2 separate regions of the Homo sapiens genome follow, and region 1 is linked to region 2. Evidence: fine-mapped expression QTL. A gene starts in region 2. The other region holds a variant in brackets. All regions are shown on one strand. Distances are from middle to middle.

Region 1 (5,371 bases), 13 kb before region 2:
TTGACCCAGCATCCTTTGTTGGAGTCCTCATTGTACAAGAGGTACTGTGATGTGCCCTGGGTATGCATTATTTCATTGGTGACAGCCTCACGACAACCCTTTGGAGGCAGCATCTTGTTATTCCCTCATTTTTTCCCAGAGGTGCCATCTGAAGCTTGGAAAGGTTAAGTAGCTTGCCCCAATTACGGAGTGGAGACAGGAAGGCTTCCTGGAGAAATGGCTTTTAAGGGATGGGAAGATGGCAGGAAGGCCACAGTGGAGATGGAGGAGAGGGCAGAGGGCAGGTGGGTGCTAAGAGTAGCAGGCAGTCCAGACAGAGTGAGGCTGGTGATGCGGGGAGGGGCCAGCAGGGAATGTTGCAGCAGATCCTGGAGGTGATAGGGAGCCATCGAATGTTTCAGAGCACAAAAGTAATGGAAAAATGCGTTAGGGACAGTGTTGTAGGGTGGGGAGAAGGAGCTGGAATATAGCAGTGCCAGGAGGGTGGTCTAGCCCCTGGCTCCAAAAGCCTGCACTCCTGGCTCTTAACCAACAGGAGAGGAGGTTCCTGGAGCCCAGCAGGAAGGATTCTGGCCCAGAACCACCTTTGGCCATACCACCCAACCTCAGGCAGCAGGCTGCCATGACACTCAACCTGGTAAAATGGGAGTCAGCTACTCCTCTCTGATCCTCAGTTTCCCCATATGCTCTGGGTTGCTACTGGTTTCTTCCAGCCATAGGAGGGCCTGGATGGGCTCCCTGCCTTTTGAAGAGAGCTCTTGAATCCCAGGGACAAGCACATTTAATGGGAGGGTTTCAGGCCAACCTCCAACTTTCAAGCAGCAACTCCCTCATCCAGAACAGCTGCTCAATTACCTCTTAATCTTCTTGATGGAGTGGAGCCAGCCAACCACTGCAGGTCCACGCCAAGTCCCCAAGCCACATCCACAGATCATACCCTACCCCAGAATTCCCAGATGGCTGGGTGGAGGTGTGGAGAGCTCAGGACAGCTTTTCCCTCATACCCAAAACTGCTTCCCTGTGCCAGTGGGTCAGACCAGTAGCCTGGAAGAGACAAAGTTTTAGCCACAGAGACCTGGTTTGAAATTCTACCAATAATGTTTGGCGCTAGGCCTGGAAGGCCCTTCCCAACCTATCCATCCACTCTGGGCACCCTTATTAGCCATGAACAGCTGCCTCTAGGAGTGGTTTTATTAGATTCATTTAAACCTCTGGTTTGGAGCAGGTTTGGATGGTGGGATTGGAAGACAGAGGATATAGATGGGGCAGGAAAGGAAGCCAAGAAAACCGAGCACTGATAACTAACTAGGTTGGGGCGTTCATCTCAAAAGCCAAAAACGAGGGGCCCTGTCCCAGCTAGAGCTTCGGTTGAAACCATTCCATTGCAGGAGCCTGGTAGGAAGTTCCCCAGGTCCATGACAAAACACACACAGGTGTTTGTGTACACAGATGTGAGCGCACATGTGCACAGACACACACACACAAACACATGACCAAGCAGTAATCTAGGAGAGGCTGTGGACTTACTTTTCCCTTCTGAAGATTTTCTTTTCTTTCTTTCTTTTTTTTTTTTTTTTTTTTTGAGACGGGGTCTCGCTCTGTCACCCAGGCTGAAGTGCAGTGGCATGTTCACAGCTCACTGCAGACTCAACCTCTGGGGCTCAGGCGATTCTCCCAAGTAACTAGGACTACAGGCATGTGCCACTATGCCTAGCTAATTTTTAAATTTTTTGTAGAGATGGGGTCTCATCTCACCATGTTGTTCAAGGCTGGTCTTGAACTCCTGGCCTCAAGCACTCCTCCCACCTTGGCCTCCCAAAGCTTACAGGCATAAGCCACCAATGCCTGGCCTCTGGAGATTTTCTGACATCATGTGATAAGCACGTGTCCACCATATCCTCATCCTGGAGCTGATGAAAGTACTAGTACTGTGCAGGACTGAGTTCTGAGACCTGCAACTGGAGACTGGAGGACTGAGCCGTAACTGCTTCCCTGGGAAGCCTTTTCACTGATTCTTTCAGGACAGTGGCCTAGAGAGGTGGGATGGGGAGGTGTGTTGGAAGGCTATCCTTCTGCAGTGATGTGACTCAGACCAGAGCATAGTGGCAGGGGAGTAGTGGAAGGGAAATACAGGTTTTTATTTTCACCCAAGCACTTTGGTTTTGGGCAGAAGCTGCCACAAGGTGTCAGTAAAGGCTCAGAGAGGTTGGCTGACTGGTCCAAGGTCACACAGGCCTTCTGATGCCCAGACCTGGGCATTTCCTACTAGACCCAGAGTGATCTGCTCTGTCTGAAATTGGTTGGCAGAATCACGGGGCAAGCTCAAGAAGGCCTGAGCGACCTTGCTGGG[C/T]GGTAACATAAGGTAACTTCCTGGGCTCAGGCCTCCAAGGGGGAAGGCTATGTCAGATTACATCAGTGAAATGGGAGGAGTAGGGGATGAGCCTGGGCTCTGCAACACTGTGTGAGGCTGACATTGATGGCACAGCAGTGACCTCTCCCCGCCCCCACACCACCCCAATTCTTCCTGAATGATCGTGGCGTAACTACTACTCACACTTATCTGCATACCTTCCTTCAACCCCCAGAGGAAGCCACTTCATCAGTCAGTCAGATAAAGAGGCCAGGTCCTTTCTGCTGGGGTTTTGAGGCTGGTCCTATTTAATCTCCTTTTCTTCAAAGGCAAGGAAAGGCCTTGGCAGGCTTGGGACCCTCTGATGCTCCCACCCAGAGAGGGGCTCTCTGCTTTGGGGTCTGGCTCTCCTTTCTGCCTGGCCTTGTGTTGAAAGCTCACTTCCTCTACTGGGCTCCAGGGCCCAAGTTGCTGGGCACAGTGGGGGCAATGGTTAGCATTTGTTGAATGACTGTTGAAGCGAGACCTTTCTGGAGTGGCCAGCTTCCCCCCTGCCTCTGCTGGCTCTCACAGCTAGGGGGCTGAGGGCTGTGCTTTCTGGGGTGGGTGACCACCTGTAGCAGATGCTCCTGGCTGGTTGGCCCAAGCCTCTCCACACCCCTTTTTCCCCAGCCACCTTCCAGTGACTGGCCTAGAGATGGCCACGGGACCCACTTCTGGTCAATGAGATAGGAGTGAAGTCACCGGGTAGGGCTTCAGGACATTCTTTCTAGAAGGTACAGAACTGGCATTCCCCTCAGCCTTTCCATCTTCTTTCTGCCTGGAAGTTGGATCTAGGTGTGGAGTTGCTGCAGCCATCTTGCAATTATGAGGCAACAAGCATGAAGACAAAGGCTTTCACACTAAGGTTGGTGGAAGGGACAATGAGAGGAGCCTGGAGCCTTGACGGCCTGGTGGCCCCAGACTGCCCATCCCTGAATTTCTTTTTATATGGAATAAATACCCTCCTCACCCCCACTGCACCCTAATAAACAGTTAGGACACTATTTATTAGGTTCTCTCTTACTCACTGTCAGATGCATCCTTAATTGTTTTATCACCCTCCTCCAGTTAGAAATGCTGAGCTCGGGTAGAAAGGGATCTCTTTCCCCTGACCTTGATATTGGCAGGAAAGGTCAGAACACTGAGCTTCCAATGCACTGTGAGTCCAGGATCCTTTGGAGCAATAAATGGCCTGGAAATGAGGCTGACTTTTGAGTGACCAGTAGCTTCTCTAATAGACCGAGCTCAGGGACCATGCAGTGTCTTCCCCTTCTGTGGAAGTGCCCTGCTTTTCTTACCCCATGCTCTCTCCCAGTTCCACCAGCCTCCTGACTAACTCCTAGTGTCTTTCAAGACTCAGCCTGTGTCCCCTCTTCCAAAAAGCCCCTGCCACCCCCATCACCCACCCCCAGGATGGGTCAGACATTTTCCCTTGTACCCCTACAGTACCCTATGCCACCCGTAGCACAGCATTTGTCACCAAAGATGTCATGGACCATGTGTCCATGTGTCTGCCTTGCACCAGATGAAGTGTCTTTTTAACCTTTCTAAGCTGGGTACCTAGAGCAGGTGTTCCAGTCATTCAGGAAGTCATTGTTAACTTGCTCATTCATTCATTCTAGGTTTACCGAGCTTCTCCTAGAGATCCCAATGCCAGGTGGAGCAGCTCTGCTCTGCTAAGCTGTCACAGGGCCCAGTGCACCTTGCATAGTGGATCCTCAGGAACAGTCCCAGAAGGTTGGCCTCAGGGATGGGTCCTCCAGCCACAGGCCTTGCTCCTTACAGCTTACCAGAGCAGGGAGAGGTGCAAGCTTGGAGCCAAGATAGCAAAGTCGGATCTCATTCTTGGCATTCTGCCTCCTCCCCCACCCCACTCTGCCCTGCCATTCAATAAGGAGGAGAGTCAAGGCCAGAGTGTCCACATGGGGGGTAAATAAAACTGGGGGTACCTTGCAGGGCCTGCAATTATAATCACCTCCTCCAGGACTCAGATTTGGGAGCTGAGGATTAAGGAGGAGGCATGGGCAGAGGAACAGGACTGCTTCTAGAACTCCTAAAGAAATTGAATTTATAGTCAAAACTCTTTTCACAGAGAAAACTCCAGGCCCAGATGATTCTCCTGGTGAATTCTTGTGAATATTTAAGTGTAAATAAACAAACCTTATTATGCAAACTCCTCCAGATAACAGAAAAAGAGGAAATTCTTCCTAAGTCATTTTATGAGGCCAGGGTGATGTTGATATCTCAATTCCCACATCTGTAAAGTGGGGATAATAATAGGTGGTGCCCACCTCTGAGGTAGGCAGCAAGATTTGGATTAAGGGAGTTGTATGTATGGCCCTTAGCATGATTCCTGACATCTAATATGTCCTCAATGTTAGATGCCAATAATTGACGTGGCCAAGCCCCAATTCAGGCCAAAGCCTATGTCTCATCTGCACCATGCTGAGTCTAGAATGGCATTCCTTAGACAAAGGGAACAGAAAAGAGGGTTGGGGAATGATGTTGAAAACAGCCCCTGTCCGGTGATGGCCACTTAGCAAACTTGATCTTGCTGAATCCTCACGAACACTCTTCAAAGTAGCTATATCAATCCCATTTTACAGGTAGGAAAACTGAGGTTCAAAGAATCTGCAAGTAACTGTATAAAGTCAAAGCCAGGCCTGTCTTCAACATAAAGCAAGTTACTAACCAACCAATCCGTGGCAACAAAGCTCTCTGACCTTGGGCTGAGGCTATCTAGATTTAAGGGTTCCTTTCTCTCTCTCTTTCTTTTTCTTTCTTTCCTTCTTTCTTTCTTTCTTTCTTTCTTTCTTTTTCTTTCTTTCTTTCTTTCTTTCTTTCTTTCTTTCTTCCTTCCTTCCTTCCTTCCTTCCTTCCTTTTTTTCTTCTTTCTTTCTGTCTTTCTTTTTTATTTATTTATTTTTTGAGACAGAATCTCACTCTGTTCCCCAGGCTAGAGTGCAGTGGTGAGATCTC
Region 2 (5,371 bases):
TTATTTGTACATGATATTATTGTTTATCCAGAAAACTCAAGAGAATCAACTAGAAAAGTAATAAGAGACTATGAGCGAGGTCAGTAAGATGACCAGTTTTGAAATAAATACACTGGCAAAGTCCAATTAGAAACCTTAAGAAGAAGAAAACTGAGGAGTGAGGCAGTAGCTCAAGGGTACTCAAGGTTGCAGAACAAGCCCAACCACCTCAAAGGTCTCCTGTTAGGGCCCAGCCTAGCAGGGAGGGGGAGAGAAAGATGGGGTGCACCAGCTGGAGCTGCAGAGGGCAGGGAAGTGGGGAGGAAAGGGGTATCCTGAAACATCTTTCTGGGCTGGTAACAGTTGGGCTTGGACTGGGAGCTGCCCTGTTGGGGGAATATCCAACCCTGTGGGCCTGGTTACCAGCAGCCCTGGCAGACAGCAGCTCAGGCCAATGGGATGCAGGCAGTTCTGAGAGCCGGTACCTGACTGCTGGGGGCTCCAGGATGCAGCAAGTCCAGGGTAGAGGACTGCAGACCCTGATGGAGAACTGTCATCCACTGCGGGGCACAGAGTCCAGCAACGAGATTCCAGCTAAGTGTCGCTGAACATCTGATGGGCTGATTACAAATTGGTCCCCTGGATTCATTAAAGTAGATTTCCCAAGAGAAGCTGTCCACGGCAGAGTCACACCCAGCCAACCTTTGAGCTCCATTCTGATGTCAGGGGCTGGCTCCTCAGCTCTCTGCCTCCAGGCTCCTGGCAACTGGGCCCTTTCTTGCTTGGGGTGGCATGATTCCCCTGGAGGCATCCGGCAGGTCTGCAGATGCACAGGCACTAGATGCAGTGCCCCCAGGGCCATTCTCAGAAAGTGAAGCTTGATTTTTTTTCTCCATCCATGGTGTGAGTATGGCATGAAATGCATGCACGGCTCCTCTCACATGATGAACAATCTCTGGGATTTACACCCAAACTTCTCCTTTCTCTCTTGTCCTCCTCACTCATGGGCCCCATCTGCATGAGAAGAAAAGAGAAGAAGAGAAGAGAGGAGGAGAGGAGAGGAGAGAAGAGGAAAGGAGAGAAGAGAAGAGAAGAAAGAAAAAGAAAAAGAAAAAACAAAAATCAAACAAACAAGACATCACTCATTCCCCCCGTCTACCCTCCCACCCCACCCCACCCCATTTGCTCCCCACCCACTCATACAACTGCCCCTGTCCAGGGAAAAGACAATTACTTCCAGATAAGATGTTGCCATTTACAAGGAGATTTCATGCAAAGCAATGGTTGGAGCTTCCATGGTAGAATTTTAGGACAATATGTAGGAGTACAATATTTTAGACATTGAATTATGTGAGGATCAAATAATTGAAAGCTGGAATTTTTTTTTCTTTTTGAGACGGAGTCTCGCTCTGTTGCCCTGGCTGGAGCACAGTGGCATGTTCTCCACTCACTGCAACATCCACCTCCCAAGTTCAAGCAATTCTCATGCCTCAGCCTCCCAAGAATCTGGGATAACAGGTGGCCACCACCATGCCCGCCTAATTTTTGTATTTTTATAGAGACGAGGCTTTACCATGTAGGTGAGGCTGGTCACAAACTCCTGACCTCAGGTGATCCGCCCACCTTGGCCTCCTAAAGTGCTGGAATTATAGTCATGAGCCACCACGCCCGGCCAAAAGCTGGAAATTAATGAGTTCAATGCAGACTTCAAACTTCTTGAGGAGGCTGTGGCTGTTGAGTGGTGGAGAGGAGAGGAAGGGAAGGAGGGAGGAAACAAACACATATTGAGCACCTACTCGGTGCTTTCCCTGTGATGTCCCATGTAGGCCACAACCATAGAGTGCAGGCATTATTTATGCCTGGTTTCAAACCCTGGTCACTTGGATCCCATGATCCTGTGTTCCCAAGCTCCAGCCCCCAGCTGCTCCTGAGAAAGTCAAGCTTCAGAGAGCAGGGCTCCCACTCCCAACCAGATGCTCATGGCTTTCTCCTTTCACACCCAGGCCTCTACTCTGCTGTTCACCTACCTTGGTCTTTTTATCTGCCTTGGTGCCTGGAATTACCGGATCACTGCTTCCTACCTTGGGGTCAGAATTGCCCTCCCACAGGTACTCTGTGACCACACAGACATCCCTGTGGGGGCCACACTCAGCACCAAGCCCTCATGGAAAGCAACTTTTTAGGCAGGATGGGGTGGGGCACAGAAAGGAAAGGTGGGGCGGCGGTTTCTGTTGCAGGTCCTGGCCTGGCATGTCCCCAGCCCCCAACCTTCCCTCTTCAGCAAGCTCACTGATTACCTGGAGTCCTCATCCTCAAGGCTGGAGTCTGGGAGAAGACTCTTGGAGGTGGGTTTGTTTGGCCTAATTCACCAAGGCCCCCTGGCTCCCTTGGTCTTGTCACCATGGAAACCTTGTGAGGTCACCAGCACCATTCAAATAAGAGAAAAAAACGTTTCTCCCTCCCACAAAGTGAGCTCCTAGTTGACTCCAGTGGCTTCTATGGAGGAACCGGAGGGCGGGGCCCAGTCCGAGGAAAAGACCTGGCCCAGCCCTCAGGGATGGGTTAACCCCTTGATGCCCAGATGATGGCTGCTCAGACTCACGCCTTCTGCCTCTCTGAAGTTTCTCAGGCATCTGTGCCCCGGAAGAGTGAATCCTGCAGCTTTGTATACACACCAAACAGCTTCATGCTATACCTGGAAAGGTGGGGAAGGAGCTCTGAATCCAGGCAATTCTAGTGAACAAAAACTGCCTACTGGAGATTCAGGGAGCTGTTGAGAGGCAGGGAGCCGGGGGAGAGAAGGGAGCTGGAGCTCTGGGTCCCTGCTTCAGACCCTTCTCCCTCTCAAGCAAAGGTGAGAGTAGGAGCTGCCAGGTACAGCTGGTACAAGAGCACAGGGTATTTTACCTCTCCCCATGCCCATGCATTCTAAGGTTGGCTCAGCTACTGAAGGCCCTTCACACCCGCTTCCTCCATGCTGCCAGCATGCCTGGGACACTTGCCTGCACTGGAGAGGGCCTAGCCTACCTTCTGCCTCCATTTGAGGCCAGCATGAGGGCCAACAGCTGGCTCCTCATCCACTTTTCTTCTCTAGCAGGCCAATCGGCTCTGACCTATCCCTCCCAGGACCCAGAATGCCTCCCCGTGCTGCCCTCCTGGAGTCCACATTCTTCTCACTACTTCCAGGACTCTTCCCAGCACCCACTCCTGCTGCACGTCTCCCCCACCATCCCCTCTGGCCAGTGGGTCTCCTCACTGTTCTAGGTCTAGAATATGCTGCTTCCTTTATTCACATTCCTAAGACAACCTCTCTCTCCCTTTGTATCTATTTTAATCCTGTATTGCATTCCTTCACCATCATCTATGCACTTTCACCTTTCTGTTTCCACAACACCCCAGCACTACCATCAGCACCAGGCTTCCCATCAGCACCAACTCCACTCACCACTATCGTGAACCACCACCATCCCCCTTCTATCACGCTGCCCCTCACCACTGTCACATCTTCTCACCATTGTCACCACCATCCCACAGTCAATGCCACACCACCATTTCTACCATCACCAACTGTCAACACCATTCTCACCACCTTCTTAACCACCATCACAACATAGCTGTGACCACAACCACCATTCCTACCACCCTACTGTCAGTACCACCACCACCATCTCCCTTATCAGTGCTGAACTCACTATTACCACCACAGTTACCATCACCATTCTTACCACCATCATAAGTCATCATCACCAACATTGTCACCACTACCACCACCATAACTGCCATCCTATTGTCAACACCAGCACCACCACCATCTCCATCATTGGCACTGCACTCACCGTCAGAACCACTGTTAACCTGTTACTACCATTGTCCATACCCTCATCAATATCACACTGTCATGACCACACATTGGTATCATCATGACCATGCACTCATCGCCACCACCATCATTTGGAGGGAAATAATGTGTTCCTTCATAAAATCAATCAAGCAATCAATTTCAAATCCTTCAAGAGAGGCCATAAAAGAACCTACATAGAGTGAAACAGCTGGACCTCACGGCCCCCATTCTTGCTCCCTGGGATTCTGTATCCTTTGGATAATCTCACACTAATTGGCTACTGTTGCCACCAAACTGGCCCTAGGAGCTCTTTCTTTAACACCTCAAGGCACAGCTGAGATAGAGCTAGAGCATTCATAGTAAGTGGGACAATAATATTAAACAACTGATGAGAGTATAAACTGGCACGAACTTCCTGAAGAGTAGCTGAACAATACAAGAAAAATCTTTGAAAAGTGCATTCTCAGAAATCTTACTTCTAAGAAGTTATCATAAGGCAATAATTAGATAAATTTGCAAAGATGATGTGTGGATGTTATAATAACAATCATTGGAAACAGCCTAAATGTATAGCAAAAAAAGAGATTGTTTAAAGAAACTATATGGATTAATATGCAGCCATTAAAACAGAAAATATAGATTTGCCTATTGACATAAAAATATGCTGACTCTATATTGTTATAAGCAAAAGCAGGTTTCATATCAGCATTTATAAAATTATCCTCTAGTTCTAAAAGTGTAATGTCTTCACGAAACAAGATGAAAATATTTTCACACCTGGCATCAAAATTCTTCTTAGATGGAAAACTGTCTTTGGGAAAAAAAAAAAACTTTGGTAAACTATCTAGACATACAGTGATTGCAAACCACTCAGCATGAGACAAGGAGAGGAATTCCTTTTGCTCCTGAGGAAGATGGCAGAGAAAGGTGAGATGATCAGAGGAGAAGGGAGAGCCAAAGAAGTTAGCATGGAGGAGATGGTGCAGATGCCAAGAAAAATGCCTAGTGAGGTGGGGAGTGGGGGAAGGCCTTTTAATTTCCCAGATCATTGCTCTTTCTCCAAAGTTGCTTTTGTGGCCGGGCCCCAGAGCTCACGCCTGTAATCTCACCACTTTGGGAGGCCGAGGAGGGAGGATTGCTTTAGACAAAGAGTTCAAGACTAGCCTGGGAAACATAATGAGACCCCCGTCTCTACAAAAAATATAAATAAATAATTAAAGTTGTTTGTGTGGCTACAGTATGAACCATTTCTTCTTTTCCCCCATATCAAATTTTCAGTCAAGTCTACTGAATGCTCAGAGTTTCTGAATGAAGGATTTTTCTGTGAGAATTGGAAAAGGGGCCAAGTTTCAGGTCTGATCCACCCCAAAGTGGTTCTTTCTGGTGGAAAAAAAATTAGGGATGACTTATATATTTGTTAGTTTTATTTGTATCTTCTAATTTTCTAAAAGAGACAGAAAAGAAAAATAGTAAATATCAGGGACCACAAATGGGGAATACATCATAAAGTCAGAGGGAAGTGAAGAATCTGGGTTACAAAATGTGGCCTAT

Alleles and levels. Positions count from the first base shown, and alleles are read on the strand shown. Sizes are in standard deviations (SD) of each study's normalised expression.
As copies of C replace T in region 1, the expression in esophagus mucosa of the gene that starts at base 2,377 in region 2 goes up (moderate effect, 0.42 SD a copy in GTEx).

Evidence for each region. PIP is the estimated chance that this variant, and not a neighbour inherited with it, causes the effect. A credible set is the group of variants that fine-mapping cannot tell apart.
Region 1: its variant is the best candidate, but not a certain one, in a credible set for the expression of INSYN1-AS1 in esophagus mucosa (GTEx, PIP 0.86).

The regions. Positions count from the first base shown.
Region 1 is chr15:73,778,286-73,783,656 of GRCh38, reverse strand. No RefSeq gene overlaps it. Among named protein-coding and RNA genes, the nearest start is that of INSYN1-AS1, 13 kb to the right of the region's middle. The variant C/T (reference allele first, on the strand shown) is at 2,351.
Region 2 is chr15:73,765,092-73,770,462 of GRCh38, reverse strand. INSYN1-AS1 (INSYN1 antisense RNA 1) reads right to left here and starts at 2,377. Exons shown (of 3, transcript NR_120353.1): 1 at 2,277-2,377; 2 at 1,603-1,710; 3 at 661-993.